4 linked regions of the Homo sapiens genome follow. Changing the gene in region 3 together with the main gene of any one other region gives a genetic interaction. Each region holds a gene or a part of one and is shown on either strand. Other genes may lie near its edges.

Region 1 (4,140 bases), on a different chromosome or scaffold from region 3:
GAGACTCCATCTCAAAATAATGATGATGATAATAATAATAATAATAATATAAAATAAAAATAAATAACTATCTTGAACTGGCAGGTAATAATAAAAGTGGTAGTGGTGACTATAAATCCAAAATAAGTTAAAAAAAATCCCTGCTCCTGACTCATGATTCTTAGAAGAACCAACTAATGATTAAAACTTTAAAAAGCTCAATATATGCAAATTGACCAAGGGGTTAAAAAAACAATATAAATAATCTCTATGTATTCAAGATGTGTAATTGGCAACAATTTAAGATTGATTAACAGGTGGACCCTAGAGGGGGAAAGGAACCTTTAGTGAATTTCTGGCCATGCCAGGAAGAATGTAAAGTTTAAGCAATTATTTCCTATTAGCCCTTGCTAATTTCTTACTACAAACTCAATAAACATTGTTAAATCCATCTACTTTGAGATACATCTAGCACCAAATGCCACAAAGTCAATCACTTCTGCCCTCAACAAGCTTCACCACTTCACCAACTCTCTGTCCTAACTTAGATTAACTTTTTTTTTTTTTTTGAGACAGGGTTTTTGCTCTGTCGCCCAGACTGGAGTGCAGTGGCATGATCTCGTGATCTCAGCTCACTGCAACCTCCGCCTCCTGGGTTCAAGTGATTCTCCTGCGTCAGCCTCCGGAGCAGCTGGGATTACAGGTGCCTGCCACGACACCCGGCTAATTTTTGTATTTTTAATAGAGATGGGGTTTCACCACGTTGGTCAGGCTGGTCTCGAACTCCTGATCTCAAGTTATCTACCCACCTTGGCCTCCCAAAGTGCTGGGATTACAGGTGTGAGCCCCGGTGCCCAGCAAACTTTTTTTTTTTTTCTTGAGACAGAGTCTCACTCTGTTGCCCAGGCTGGAGTGCAGTGGTGCGATCTCAGCTCACTGCAACCTCCCTCTCCCAGGTTCAAACAATCCTCCCACCTCAACCTCCCGAGTAGCTGGGACTACAGGCACTCACGCTTGGCCTTTTTTTTTTTTTTTTTTTTGGTATATTTTTGGGTAGAGACGGGATTTTACCATGTTGGCTAGGCTGGTCTCAAACTGCTGGCTTCAAGTGATCTGCCCAACTCAGGCTCCCAAAGTGCTGGGATTACAGGCATGAGCCACCATGCCCAGCCTAGTTTAACTTTTAATCATATATTCAATTGTATTCTAATAGGGGCTGAAACAACTTGGGATGGGAAGCAAATATCAGAACATTCACCAAGGAAGGGTATACAATGGATAAAAGAGTTTGACCTTAAGTAGTTTTACCTCTTCTTCTAAATCTACCACTTGCTGTTCCAGCTCACTCATTCGAGCCTTCTTTCGATCTCTGGCAGTCTGAGCTGCTACTCTGTTTTTCAGTTTCCTAGGAAGAGAAGGAACATACCACACTGAGTCATATCAAACCTTATTTATGTCTTTATTTGAAAACTTTACCAGCTGGTGCTTTCATTTTTATTTACAGTATAAGACAGACTAATGATAAAATACACTTCAGGCTCCTCCCCTCAATAAAACAAAATAAAAAATACAGTCTTCTGTCAATCTAGCTCGAAGACCTGCTTTATTCTCTCCTATATTGCATCATCCGTCCACCTCAGACTCATCCCCGTCACAGCACTGGGGCTGGACACACACACTATTCATCTTGCATCATAAGGAACTTTCCTCTTTCCCCATCTATTCCCCCGCTGCTTCCTGTCTCCAGTTCTCTTAAACAGGATCCAACCTGGCCTCATTAATCTAGTGAAGGCTGCAATCTTGCTATGACATCAACCCTCCGTCCCCCAGTCCAATTTAGAAAAGGGAGAGGCTGATGCCACTCCCTGATCTCTAGTGTTGAGATCCTAGGCAGTGACCTGCTGATGGGTCCGTGTCTGTTGGAGGAGACACTTTTTTTTTTAAAAGAATTAACTCAGAAGAGACACTTCATAAATCACAGAAGGCACAATGATCACAAAAGAGTGAACATTTACGGAGGACTAAGTGCTAGGCACATTATATCCAAGTCTCAATCTCCCCAAAGACCTCATGAAGTAGGTTCCATTTTAAGAACGCAGATACTGAGCTAGACCAGTGAGCCTCGCAGAATTCCCAGCCCTTTCAACAGCTCTGTTATTTCAGCTCCGCGCCTCTCCAGAAATAGCAGTAAACCAAAACAGATTATTCGACCTCATGTCCGAGTTAAGAGGCTGAACCACCAGTCTGCGGCCACACAGCAAGAGGGCCTGGAAGACAGGTGCCCGCATCCCCAGCTCTGGTCATCTCTAACGAGAGAGTTAAAAAGTACAGAAAAGAGCCCTGGGCCGCCCTAGGTTCCCAGCGTGGCGGATCCGGTCAGTCCGGGCTTCCTGCCCCGCCCCGCGCCACGCTGGCACCGACCCGCCAGGCCAAAGGCGACGGAGCCCTGCGGGGCGGCCAGTGCTGGGTCCCCGCTCCCAGCCCCTGCCCCTGCCCCTGTCCCTAGTCCCGGCTTCAGATCTGGCCCCAGACCCCGGCCCCTCGCCCACCTCCTCAGCGCCTTCTCCTCGGGGCTCAGGTGCGTGAGGCGCTGTCGCTTGCGCGCCTGGGGCAGCCCCCCGCTCGCTGCCTCCGGGCTGGCCCCTCTCTGGGCTGGCACCATGAGCGGCAGGGCCTGGCCGGCCGGGGCTCCGGCGGCGGAGGCGGGCTGCCCCGACAGAAGCAGAACTTTAGGGGTCCCGTCGGCCGGGTTCGGCGCGGCTGCCACCACCACCATAGCTCCAGACTACGCACCGCGCACCGCGCGCCGCAGCCGCCCAGCGCCCAGCCTCGCCGCGCCCGGCCTTTCTACGGTCGTGGCCCTCCGCGATTGGCCAGCGTCGCGTGACGCACGGCCGAGCTCGGCGTCCATTGGTCCGGCCTGCCCGGCGGGGCGTTTCAGGACCGTGGCTATGGAGTCCGGCGTGGCAGCGGCAATCCCTGGCCAAAGGTACTTGGGGTCATTTTCCGCGGGGGGTTACGTGCGGGAGCGTGTCCTCCACAAACGGATTTTCCCCCCTTAAGCGGACTTATTTCCATCCGGAGTGACAGAATTTAATTCCAAACCGAGAGCTTTCCAGACTGACGAATTTTTACCGGGACTAACAGAGAATTACCTCAGCCTGACAACATTTTATCTCGTGCGCCACTTCGGGATCCGAGTGGAGCCGAAAGTCGAGATAGAGCGCAGTTGGGCCTTGGGTTCGAAAAGACTGGACAGAGGTTTCAGTGAGCCGAGATCGCGCCACTGCACCCCGGCCTGGGCGACAGAGCGAGACTCCGTCTCAAAAAAAGAAAAAGAAAAAAGCCTGGAAAGAAATTCTGCGGAATAGAAGTCTTTAAGAAATGAGATCGTGCCCTTTAAAACTAAGTTTAACAATAGTGAGGGCTTAATAAACGATAGGTGTTATCTCTGGGTTGGAGGGGAATACCTTCAATTTTAGTTTTTCGTTCCATTTCTAAAGTTTGTACTATGAGCGTGCATTTTTTTAAATTTAGTTTTATTTTATTTTTTAAATAGAAACGAGGTCTCACTGTGTTGCCCAGGCTGATCTCGAACTTCTGAGCTCAAGTGAACCTCCCGCTTCGGCCTCTATTATTTTTATTTTATTTTTTTTTCTTATTTTTTGAGACGGAGTCAGGCTCTGTCACCAGGCTGGAGTGCAGTGGCGAGATCTCAGCTCACTGCAACCTTCGCCTCCGGGTTCAAGCAATTCTCCTGCCTCAGCCTCCCGAGTAGCTGGGACTACAGGCGCCCGCCACCACACCCGGCTAATTTTTTGTAGTTTAGTAGAGGCGGGGTTTCACCGTGTTGGCCAGGATGGTCTCCATCTCCTGACCTCGTGATCGCCCGCCTCGGCCTCCCAAAGTGCTGGGATTACAGGCGTAAGCCACTGCGCCCAGCCTCTTGTTATTTTAAATGAGGGGACAGGAAAACGTCACATGTAGAGACTGAGACCCCGGGGTTGACCCTGAGCCCCCTCTCCGAGGGGAGGTCGAGGTTCCTGCCTGGCCATTGTGGCGTGAGGGTGGCCAGGTGTTTGTGAAAGAGGGGCCCCCAGAGAGCAGCACGGGAGCGATTTATACACACGAATATTAACATGGAGAAGTCCGAGAAACCCC
Region 2 (3,500 bases), on a different chromosome or scaffold from region 3:
ACCCGACCAGAGAGGAGAACAAGTCCAGGGAGGGACTCCCGGAATGGGGCAGGGCGTGGGGGCCACTCACATTGTCCAGCGGGGAGACCTGTAAGGTACGGAGTTTGTATTCGGTTGTGTCATGCTCCCCGCAGTTGGTCACAGAGTAGGGCCCATAAGCACGCTGCATGCCCACCTCGGGCCAGTATGGGACGCATTTGTTCTGGAAAGGGAGGGTCGGGTGGGGATGAGGCACAGAGCAGGGCACTGTGGCCCATCCCAGGTCCTGCTCTATGTTCTGAGTGCCTGGCACCGGCCCAAACATTTGTTGGATGGACGGATGGGCTGGCAGAGAGGCAGGAGACCTGGGCTCTCGTCTCAGATCAACCACCAACAGGTGGTGAGGCCTGGCCAGCCACTTCACCGGTACATCCGTTTGTCATTCAACAAACGTTGCCAGGGCAGGCATTGTCCCCGAAGCTGTGCAAACCACACAGCTTCACAGACACAAATAACACCCAGTCTGTGCCCCTGTGCCTCGAGGAGCTCACAGAGACAGGTGACCGGGGGAGACACCGCGCTGAGGAGCGTGGCTGGGAAAGACGTAATTCTCCCTCTAGGTCCTGGAGGAAACAAGACCTGGATTCACAGAGGAGGCAGCGCTCCGGCTGTGTCTTCAAAAACGAGGCATCTGCCAGGCAGAGATAGTGTGGAGAGAGTCATTTCCTAGCAGAAAATGAGCTTGTGCAAAGAAAGGCTGGGAACCTGAAAGAGCTGGGGCTGCTGGGGGCGGTGAGCCTTCAAGAGAAGCGTGCGGGTCAGAGGGAAGCCACCAGACCTTGAATGCCAGGCCTTAGAGTGCGACTTTATCCCAAAGGTGACCAGGAGCCATGGAAGAGATTTCAGAAAGGAAGGAACTTGACCCAGTTTGTGTCACGGATGGGATCACTTCAATGGCAGCACAGAGGGTGCTGTGTAGGGGGAGCCTGCAGGGTAAGGGGCAGACTCCAGAGAGATCTATGGGGCAGGGAGGACAGGAGGGGCCTGGATGCAGACAGGTGGGGCAGGGGTAGGAGGAAGGAGGACAGCCTGGAACCTGGGTCTGGAGCTCAGAAGAGCCCAGGGATGCATGCAGGGATCTGGGGGTCACGTTGTGTAGTCGAGACTTTGTCACTAGCCCTCAGTTTCCCAACAAGGGCCGGACCCTCACCCCTGAGATCCCTTTCTGCCCTGGCATCTGACTGCTCTTCGACTTAATGGCATGACCACAAGCACGGGGGCGGATGCGGGGAAGGGGGGGCGCCCTACCCGGCCTTTCTCCACCTCTCGGGTGGTCATGACGATGACACGGCTGTTCTCCTGCCACGCCATCTGCCAGAAGTCATTGACCGTGGCCTCCAGACAACCCTGGCTGGCGATGTAGGTCTTAGCGTTCTCATCAGGGCCTAGCAGCTGGTTCTGGACGCAAGCGTGGAGAGACGCACCCCAAGACAGTGAGCCCCTTGGCCCAGCACAGGCCCTGAACCACTGCCACCCTCACCCATGCAAGAAGCCAGCTTCGGCTTTGCCCAGCTGTCTCTGGATCTAGGGTCCCCCCACCAGACAGGGAATTCCCAGGGCCCAGCCTCTCCTCCCACGTGGCCCACACTGCTGACCTTGATGTAGTTGGCATTGATGTAGTCGGACCCGGGGATGTTACTGTCCCGTCCCTGCAGGATCACTCGGCTGTGGTCAACTGGGAGTGGGCGGAGAGGAGGCGAGATGGTCTGGGTTAGCCAGGGACTCACCACACCTGGGTCAGACCCTCCTGAGCTAACAGGCCATTCTGGTCTCAGAAGCCATGAGGCTTGCGGGGGACTGTGGGCAGCAGGGGTGGGGGATCATCTGTATGGAGGGAGTGAGGGAGTTCACAAGGAGGTTGGGAGCAGGGGGCAACCTGCCTGCTGGTGGTGGGGAGGCACTTCTGGGAGGAGTAGAGGCCTTTTGGAGAAGGGGGAGGCTCTGTGGGGGGTGTGGGGAGATGGCCCCTCCTGGCGTGGAGGGTGGAGACCTGTGAGATGAGGGGAGGCAGCTGGGGCAGGGGCGGTATCCTGGGTGAATGGGGCAGCCTGGGTGCTCACAGGGGAGAATGTTCTTGTAGCGGTTCTTGCCCTTGTTCTCTGGCCGCTGCCCTTCCAGACGCTGGTGCAAGTTCTTCACCTCCTGCTTCTGCAAACTCTGAGATGTGGGTGGGGAAATGAGCATCAGCTCCCAAAGAGGGCATCCATCGGGGGAGCTCACGTGGGGTGGGTCAGGAGCAGAGGTGGGCAAGGAGGGGAAGGTGTCCGCCTGGGGCCCCAGGCCGCTGCCACCACCTCAGCTGCCCCAGCCCTGCCGGTCCCCACCATGCACCTCAAACTCCTCCCAGAAGCCAGCCTTGGCTGTATCCTCGGACTCCTGCTTCTTGTTCAGTTCCAACACTCGGTTCTCAATGTCAGCCGCATTCACCCTCGTGGCATAGTACGGCTGGGGTGGGGAAGAGCGAGAAGTCAGCAACTCAGAGATCCCAGAAGCTCACATCTGGGGGACAGCTCAGGGGAAGTGGGGAGGCAGCTGGGCCCACCCCTGACCTGCCGCAGGTAGACAAAGGCGCCTGAGGCCTCCTCAATCCCCGTCTTCTTGAAATGCTCCACCAGGTCCGTGAGGCTGTCGAAGGTCTCCAAACCACCCACTGTGTAGCGTCCACCCTGGGGGGAGCCAAATTAGGCCATTCACAGGACTTGAGTCTCCCTCCCTGGGTCCCCAGCCTTGAATTCAAGCCCAGGCAGACCCTCCCTGCCACCCACACTGTGGTCACAGACAGGAGCCTCAGCAGAGGCTCCCCCGCCGCCTGGCTGCCTTACCTCGCACATGACCTTGATGTGGGTGACCCTGAGCGGGGAGCCTGGGCCAGCCTTGGGCTGGTCACTGAGCACAGAAAGCACGAAGTCTCCAGGCTGGCTGAGGCTCTCACGCACAAGAAACGTCCAGGGCTCGCCCTTGGCCTGCAGCAGCGTCTCTGCCTGCCCGCCAGACATGTGGCCATGGTACCACCTAGAGAAGGCAGCGTCAGGGAAGGTAAGACCCAGGCCACAGGGGAAGGCGCTGAGCAGAGACATTCACAGAGAGGGGCCGGAAATCAAGCACCTACTGTGTGCCAGGCACTGCGCTACATGCTTCCAAATCCACCACCTCATTTAGGTCTCTCACAAACATGCTGAGAGCTAGGTATGATATTACCCCCATTTTATAGATGAGGAAACTGACGCTGAGCTGTTACTCACTGGCCTAGGGCCCTTGACTGACTCTAGGGCAAGCTTCCAGAGCTCTGTTGCCCAGGCTGGAGTGCAGTGGCGCGGTTACAGCTCTCTGCAGCCTCGACCTCCCAGGTTCAAGCCATCCTAGCCTCCAGAGTTCTAACCGGGCTTCGAACCCAGAGCCCACCTCTGAAAGGCAGAAAGGCTGGCAATATTCAAAATATTTGGAGGAGAGAAGCTAAGGAT
Region 3 (3,500 bases):
TACTCTGCTAAAAAAGTGGAAAAAAGGGCTGGGCGCAGTGGCTCACACCTGTAATCCCAGCACTTTGGGAGGCCGAGGTGGGCAGATCACCTGAGGCCGGGAGTTTGAGACCAGCCTGACCAACACGGAGAAACCTCATCTCTACTAAAAATACAAAATTGGCCCGGCATGGTGGCGCATGAATGTAATCCCAGCTGCTGGGAGGTTGAGGCAGGAGAATCGCTTAAACCTGGGAGGCAGAGGTTACGGTGAGCCGAGATTGTGCCATTGCACTCCAGCCTGGGCAACAAGGGGGAAACGCTGTCTCAAAAAAAAAAAAAAAGTGGAAAAATAAATAAATAAATAAATAAGTGGTTTTAAGATTGTTCTTAGAACCACTGTGATATTCTGACTCCCTCATTGACTTTTGGATGGAATGAGTAAGGGTTTATCAGGTGGACAAGAGTGAGAAAAAACATTCAGAATAGAAAGGGAGCTTCATATGCAAAGGCAAAGAGGCAGCAAAGACCATGACTTTAAAAAGTAGGAATGATGTGGCGTGGTGGCCCACACCTATAATCCCAGCATTTTGGGAGGCCAAGGCAGGCAGATTGCTTTGAGCTCTGGAGTTTGAGACCAGCCTGGGCAACATGGCAAAATGTTGTCTCTACAAAAAATACAAAAAAATTAGCCAGGCATGGTGACTCATGCCTGTAGTTCCAGCTACTTGGGAGGCTGAGGTGGGAGGATCGCTTGAGCCTGGGAAGCAGATATTGCAGTGAGTCAAGATTGTACCACTGCACTCCAGCCTGGGCGACAGAATGAGACCCTGTTTCAAAAAAAAAAAAGGAACTTTTTAACTTTTTAGGGTCTTTTATTTTATTTTATTATTATTATTTTTTGAGCCGGTGTCTTGCTCTGCTGCCCAGGCTGGAGACCAGTGATGCAATCTTGGCTTACTGCAACCTCCACCTCCTGGGTTCAAGCAATCCTCCTGCCTCAGCCTCCTGAGTAGCTGGGATTACAGGCCCCTGCCATCATGCCCAGCTAATTTTTGTATTTTTAGTAGAGTGGGGGTTTCACCATGCTGGCCAGGCTGGTCTCAAACTCCTGACCTCAGTTGATCTGCCTGCTTTGGCCTCCCAAAGTGCTGGGATTACAAGCATGAGCCACTGCCCCCAGCCGAGGGGCTATTTTAGACAAAGAATATGTGTAGCTTATATGGGGCACCAATGGCTGCCACCCAGCTTGAAAAATAACATCACCAAAACTGAGGCTGCATGTATGTATGCCCTTCCCTGTTAGTTCCCCCACACTCCCTGCCGCTTGCCACTATTCTCAATTTTTTTGTGTGAGCTTCTCTGGGGTATAGTCCTAGAAGTGGAATTGCTGAAATATAGGATATGAAGTGCTTTAGCTTTGTAAGATAATGCCAAATTGTTATTCAAATTCATATTAATTTAGATACATACCAGCCACTTGGTCTGCATTTTTTACCAACTTAAAAACAATTTTTTTTTTGAGACAGGGTCTTACTCTGTTGTCCAGGCTGGAGTACAGTGGTGTGATCGTGGCTCACTGCAGCCTTGACCTCCTAGGCTCAAGTGATCCTCCCACTTCAGCCTCTCAAGTAGCTGGGACTACAGGCACATGCCACCATGCCCTACTAATTTTTAAATTTTTTGTAGAGATGGAGTTTTGCTATGATGCCCAGGCTGTTCTCAAACTCCTTGGCTCAAGTGATCCTCCTGCATCGGCCTCCTAAAATGCTGGATTATAGGCGTGAGCACCTGGCCTTTTAAGTATTATCAGATTTAAAGTGTTTTGCTATTTCAGGAATGTAAAGTGGTATATCATTATAATCTTATTTTGTAATTTTCCTGATTATTAATGAAGCTAATAATCTTTTCATATATTTATTTGCTGTTTATGTTTCCTATTCTGTGAAACACCTATTCATCTCTGTTGCCAATTTTGGGGAGGGGTTATATGTCTAGTTCTTATAGTTTTGTAGCAGTTATTGTATACTCTGGATATTACTCCTTTATATTAGTTATATGTGCCTCAAATATTTTCTTCTGGTTTGTGCCTTATCTTTTCCCTCTTTTTTATGTTGTCTTTTGAACAGGCATTTTTAATTTTAACATGGTTGAATTCACCAATTTTTTAAAGAGGTTTTGCTTTTTGTTTCTTGTTTAGGTACTTCTCCCTTATGCTGAGTTTATAAAAATACTCTCCTGTAGCCAGGTGCTGTGGCACACACCTGTTGTCCCAGCTACCCAAGAGGCTGTTGTGGAAGGATTGCTTGAGCCTAGGAGTTTGAGTCCAGCCTGGGCAACATGGCAAGACCCTATCTCTAAAAAAAAATCAAAAAGAAAATATTCTCATATATTAGCTTCTAAGAGATTTCAAGTTTTGCTTTTCATATTTAAATAACCTGAGATATATTTTTGGTATTCCATTAAATAAGAATACAATTTATTGTTTCTTTTTCTCCTGCTTTTGTTGGATATAGACAGAGTTGCCAAGTGATACAGTGACTCCTCTTTGGATCCTGTTGAGGTAACTGGGATGCCACAAAGCACTAGGGGAATGTTCTAGACCCAGCTTTAAATGGACAGTGGTTTCAAGGGTACATGTTACTCAGAGTCTCTGGGCCAGTGGCTTATCTGGCTAAGGGTGTTAGTTGGTATTTATTTAGTTGTTCCCTCTCTTATTTATTTTTTTCTATTAATTTTTCATTTGTGTGGGTACATAATGAATGTATTTCTCTTGTTATTTCTGACACAAGATAAATCTTAAGTTCGTTTCTACTATACTTTTATGAGGTTTCTGCAGGCCTTTATGACCTTGTGACAAGGGATTTCTTGGCCATTGGCTACCAGGCAGCAAGTGGTTCATCAGTTTCCCATCTGAAGCTGAAGGGCACAACTGTTTGGAGATTCCCTGAGTGAGGGGACATACTCAGAGACCTAGAAGGAGATTAGGCAGCTCTGCATAGTACTTGAAAATAATTCCTCTTCATTCCCTAGATGTTTCTTTTTTTTTGAGACAGAGTCTCACTCTGTTGCCCAGGTTGGAATGCAGTGGCGCGATCTCGGCTCACTGTAACCTCCACCTCCTGGGTTCAAGTGATTCTCCTGCCTCAGCCTCCCAAGCAGCTGGGATTACAGGTGTGTGTCACCACACCTGGCTAATTTTTGTATTTTTAGTTGAGGTGGCGTTTCACCATGTTGGCCAGGCTGGTCTTGAACTCCCAACCTCAGGTGATCTGCCCACCTCAGCCTCCCAGAGTGCTGGGATTATAGGCGTGAACCACTGCGCCCAGCCCTAGATGTTTCTTTTTTACAATGATTTTTTGCTTAGACCTTTGCTGTCTTAGAAAGTGGTTACTTCTTTTCTAAAGGGCTTATTCATTTTTAGTCAATCAGCTGATTAAAATTTAAAAGTAGTTAATAGGTAATATATGTTTGTGACACAAAATTCAAAAGGTAAAAAAGAATATACAGAGAAAAGTTAGT
Region 4 (3,500 bases), on a different chromosome or scaffold from region 3:
AGATTTAAATGAAGCAATGTATCCTTTAACTTTTATGGAGAAGGACGCAAAGGTCAAGTTATAATTAAAAGCTAGGAACTTTGTATATAATACAAAAAGAAATTCGATTTATATTATTAAATGTCAATGTACCAATTAGCCTTCTGTACTGAACCATCTATTTATTGACCTGTTTCTAACCCAGTGAACAACAGTCACGTTAAATTCACGCTGAAAGGGCCATATTTCTCCCTACAGAAAAAGTCTGGCATAAGTAAGGGTTCATGGGATCGTTATTGATAAAAAGGATGGTTCATTTCGATGACTGAGCAACATGCATCCTATTCCTTTTTTTTTTTTTTTTTTTTGAGACGGAGTCTCACTCTGTCGCCCAGGCTGGAGTGCAGTGGCGTGATCTCGGCTCACTGCAACCTCCACTTCCCAGGTTCAAGCGATTCTCCTGCCTCAGCCTCCTGAGTAGCTGGGACCACAGGTGCACACTACCACGCCTGGCTAATTTTTGTATTTTCAGTAGAGACAGGGTTTCACCATGTTGGCCAGGATGGTCTCATTCTCCTGACCTCGTGATCCACCCACCTCAGCTTCCCAAAGTGCTGGGATTACAGGCGTGAGCCACCACGCCCAGCCGAAGCATCCTATTCTTTCTCCTTGTCAGCACAGAACAGACCTCAGTACAGATACCAGTAATAAAAAAGCTGAAATACAGTAATTCCAAACAAAATAATCTGAAAACTATAGCATATATACCATCTTTTCCTTCCTTCCTCCCTCCCCTGCCTCTTCGCCCCTCTGCCTCTCTCTCTTTTCTCCTCCTCGCCCCCACCCCCACCACTGTCCTTTTCTCCTTCCTCCTCCCTCTCCTCTCTGTCCTCATGCCTGGCCTATAGTATCTTCTCATACAGCTTTGGGTGAGGGAAAAAAGAAGTTATAAGCCAATAGTTTCCCAACTGCCAAGTTACTTCTTCATAATTTTTAGGCTTAAGTTGTGGTAGGCCTGTGATTCAAGGCTGAACTCTTTAAGGGATCTGTTTGGCTTTCTTATCTATAAGCTAGTTGGGAAGGACAGAAATCATAACTTGGTATAAGATCCAAATTTTCAGCCAGGTGCAGGGGTTCATGCCTGTAATCTCAGTGCTGTGGGAGGATCACTTGAGGCCAGGAGTTCGAGGTTGCAGCGAGCTATGATCATGCCACTGCACTCCAGCCAGAGCAAAATAATAATAAAAATATTACCCAAATTTCTGAGTCCCTACAACAGGCTTTTATTATGGACCTGAAGTAATGGAGGAAACTTCTATATTCACTGTAAATGACGAGTTGATACTTCCTGCTTCAATTATGTGCAGCAAAGTCTTTATACCTGACACTAGTTAGCCTGATTTAGCCTCACTTTATGAAATGAGTAGGGAAGTATGGAATAGACTCAGTTTGGAGATCTTAACACAAAATGCATCTCAATATAGGTCTGAAATAGAAATCTTTGCAGGAGAGGACCACCCATCATTTCAATCCATTTATCTCTCTCTGCTTCAGAAAGGCCTCCCCTGACCACTCAAACACCCTTTAACCCATCAGTCACCCCCTACTCCCTAGTGCCTGAACTTTCATTATAGTGCTTATCACTACCTGAAATTCTATTATTTTAACTTGTTTTTTGTCTTTGTTCCCCACAAGAGCTTGAGGACCTTGTCCCGTTTATCCCCATATTCTCAGCCAGGTCTGACACATACTAAATATTACATAAATATTTGTTGAATGAATGAAAGAATCACAAACTACTCATAATTCCTCTCATTAAAATACTCCATATCTACTTATTTCAATGACATATAGCATGAGGGGCTCTGAGAAGCAATTCAATTTTCATTCAATACAGAGGAAAGAAAAGAGTACTAACATCTATGGAGCACCATAATGGGCCCTGCACAATAAAAACCTCACCCATCTCAATCAGTCCTTCTAACAAGTTTATGAGCTCTACGATTCCCATATTACAGAAACAGGACCAGAGAAGAAGGGTTAAGTAATCCCTGCAAGACCCACATAACCTTTAAATGGTGGAGCTGCTGGGATCTGAACCAAATCTATCTTACTTCAGATCTAGTCTCTACCATACCACAAGGCTTCTCAAGAAGACTAAGATGTTTAACTCAGTTATACAACAATGTGTACGTTAAACTAAAGACACAAAGATGAGTAAGACATTAAAGAGTTCACAAAGTAAACACTACACTACATGAAAAGTGCCATGTAAAACAGGATGTAATGGTACTACAGTATCTTTTCATACAACTTTTGGTGAGGGGGAAAAAAGAAGTTATAAGCCAATGGGACACATAGGGGACACAGAAAGTCAAACATTGATCCAGGTAAAGAGAACATTATATTCAAAGAACTGTAAGGTGTTCAGTATAGCTAGAGTCAGAGTGGGAGGAAGCAAATAAAGAGAATGGAAGAGGGAAAGATCAGAGATGAGGCAAAGACAGTGCTTGCTCGTCTGTTCACTAATTCCTTAGGATAAGGTCCTACTATGTGCCAGGCCTTATTTTAGACAAGCATTGCAATGATGAATGAAACCTAGTCTCTGTTCAAGCAGCTTATAGTTTATCCCAGGAGATGGGCAAATACACAACTGCAACACAGAGTGGTATATGATAACATAGGTGCATTCACTGGATACTGAGATGTTCCTAGACAGAAAGAAGGTGAATCAGTCAGATTAACCAAGGCACTATATTCACAGAGACCCTTATAAGAAAGACTGCCTCAGGCTAGGCACAGTGGCTCACGCCTGTAATCCCAGCACTTTGGGAGACGGGCGGATCACCTGAGGTCAGGAGTTTGAGACCAACCTGGACAATATTGTGAAACCCCGTCTCTACTAAAAATACAAAAATTAGCCGGGAGTAGTGGTACGCGCCTATAATCCCAGCTACTTGGGAGGCTGAGGCAGGAGAATTGCTTGAACCTGGGAGGCAGAGGTTGCAGTGAGCCGAGATCATGCCATTGCACTCCAGCCTGGGCAAAAAGAGCGCAACTCCATCTCAAAAAAAAGACTGCCTCATTCAGCACAACCACCAAATGCTAAGCTCAGCTGGCCAGGTTCTGCACCAGTCTCCAGTTCTCCTCCTACCTCAAATCAAACCACAGCTGCCTAAAGCAGGGGTGGAAATATGACCAAAGACAAGACAATCCATTGGCTGAACTGAGACCTAGAATGTGGCCTACCATATGAAAAGGAGCTCTGGCACTTAGGAGTTGCACTCCAGAAGCTAAAATGATGCATAGGGAGAATCCTTGAAGCAGTCGTCAAAATATAAGAAAAAGTGGAACGGCCGGGCGTGGTGGCTCATGCCTGTAATCCCAGCACTTTGGGAGGCAGAGGCGGGCGGATCATGAGGTCAGGGGATTGAGACCATCCTGGCTAACACGGTGAAATACAAAAAATACAAAAAATACAAAAAATTAGCCGGGCGTGGTGGCGGGCGCCTGTAGTCCCA

Evidence for each region. Genes that interact genetically often act in the same process or in processes that back each other up.
Region 1: changes in GBF1 (region 3) and XBP1 together harm fitness less than expected from each alone (positive genetic interaction), as found in Homo sapiens cells (one study listed by BioGRID).
Region 2: changes in GBF1 (region 3) and PTPN6 together harm fitness more than expected from each alone (negative genetic interaction), as found in Homo sapiens cells (one study listed by BioGRID).
Region 4: changes in GBF1 (region 3) and TMED10 together harm fitness more than expected from each alone (negative genetic interaction), as found in Homo sapiens cells (one study listed by BioGRID).

The regions. Positions count from the first base shown.
Region 1 is NC_000022.11:28,797,770-28,801,909, forward strand, and holds the start of XBP1 (X-box-binding protein 1), read right to left. Parts: upstream 2,801-4,140; 5' UTR 2,756-2,800; coding exon 2,529-2,755; intron 2,309-2,528; exon of another isoform or gene 2,268-2,308; coding exon of another isoform or gene 2,191-2,267; intron 1,385-2,190; coding exon 1,288-1,384; intron 1-1,287. UniProt on the Homo sapiens protein: Functions as a transcription factor during endoplasmic reticulum (ER) stress by regulating the unfolded protein response (UPR).
Region 2 is NC_000012.12:6,954,356-6,957,855, reverse strand, and holds part of PTPN6 (tyrosine-protein phosphatase non-receptor type 6), read right to left. Parts: intron 3,052-3,500; coding exon 2,862-3,051; intron 2,706-2,861; coding exon 2,589-2,705; intron 2,485-2,588; coding exon 2,371-2,484; intron 2,197-2,370; coding exon 2,100-2,196; intron 1,715-2,099; coding exon 1,635-1,714; intron 1,438-1,634; coding exon 1,288-1,437; intron 203-1,287; coding exon 71-202; intron 1-70. UniProt on the Homo sapiens protein: Tyrosine phosphatase enzyme that plays important roles in controlling immune signaling pathways and fundamental physiological processes such as hematopoiesis.
Region 3 is NC_000010.11:102,252,032-102,255,531, forward strand, and holds part of GBF1 (Golgi-specific brefeldin A-resistance guanine nucleotide exchange factor 1), read left to right. Parts: intron 1-3,500. UniProt on the Homo sapiens protein: Guanine-nucleotide exchange factor (GEF) for members of the Arf family of small GTPases involved in trafficking in the early secretory pathway; its GEF activity initiates the coating of nascent vesicles via the localized generation of activated ARFs through replacement of GDP with GTP.
Region 4 is NC_000014.9:75,166,613-75,170,112, forward strand, and holds part of TMED10 (transmembrane emp24 domain-containing protein 10 precursor), read right to left. Parts: intron 1-3,500. UniProt on the Homo sapiens protein: Cargo receptor involved in protein vesicular trafficking and quality control in the endoplasmic reticulum (ER) and Golgi.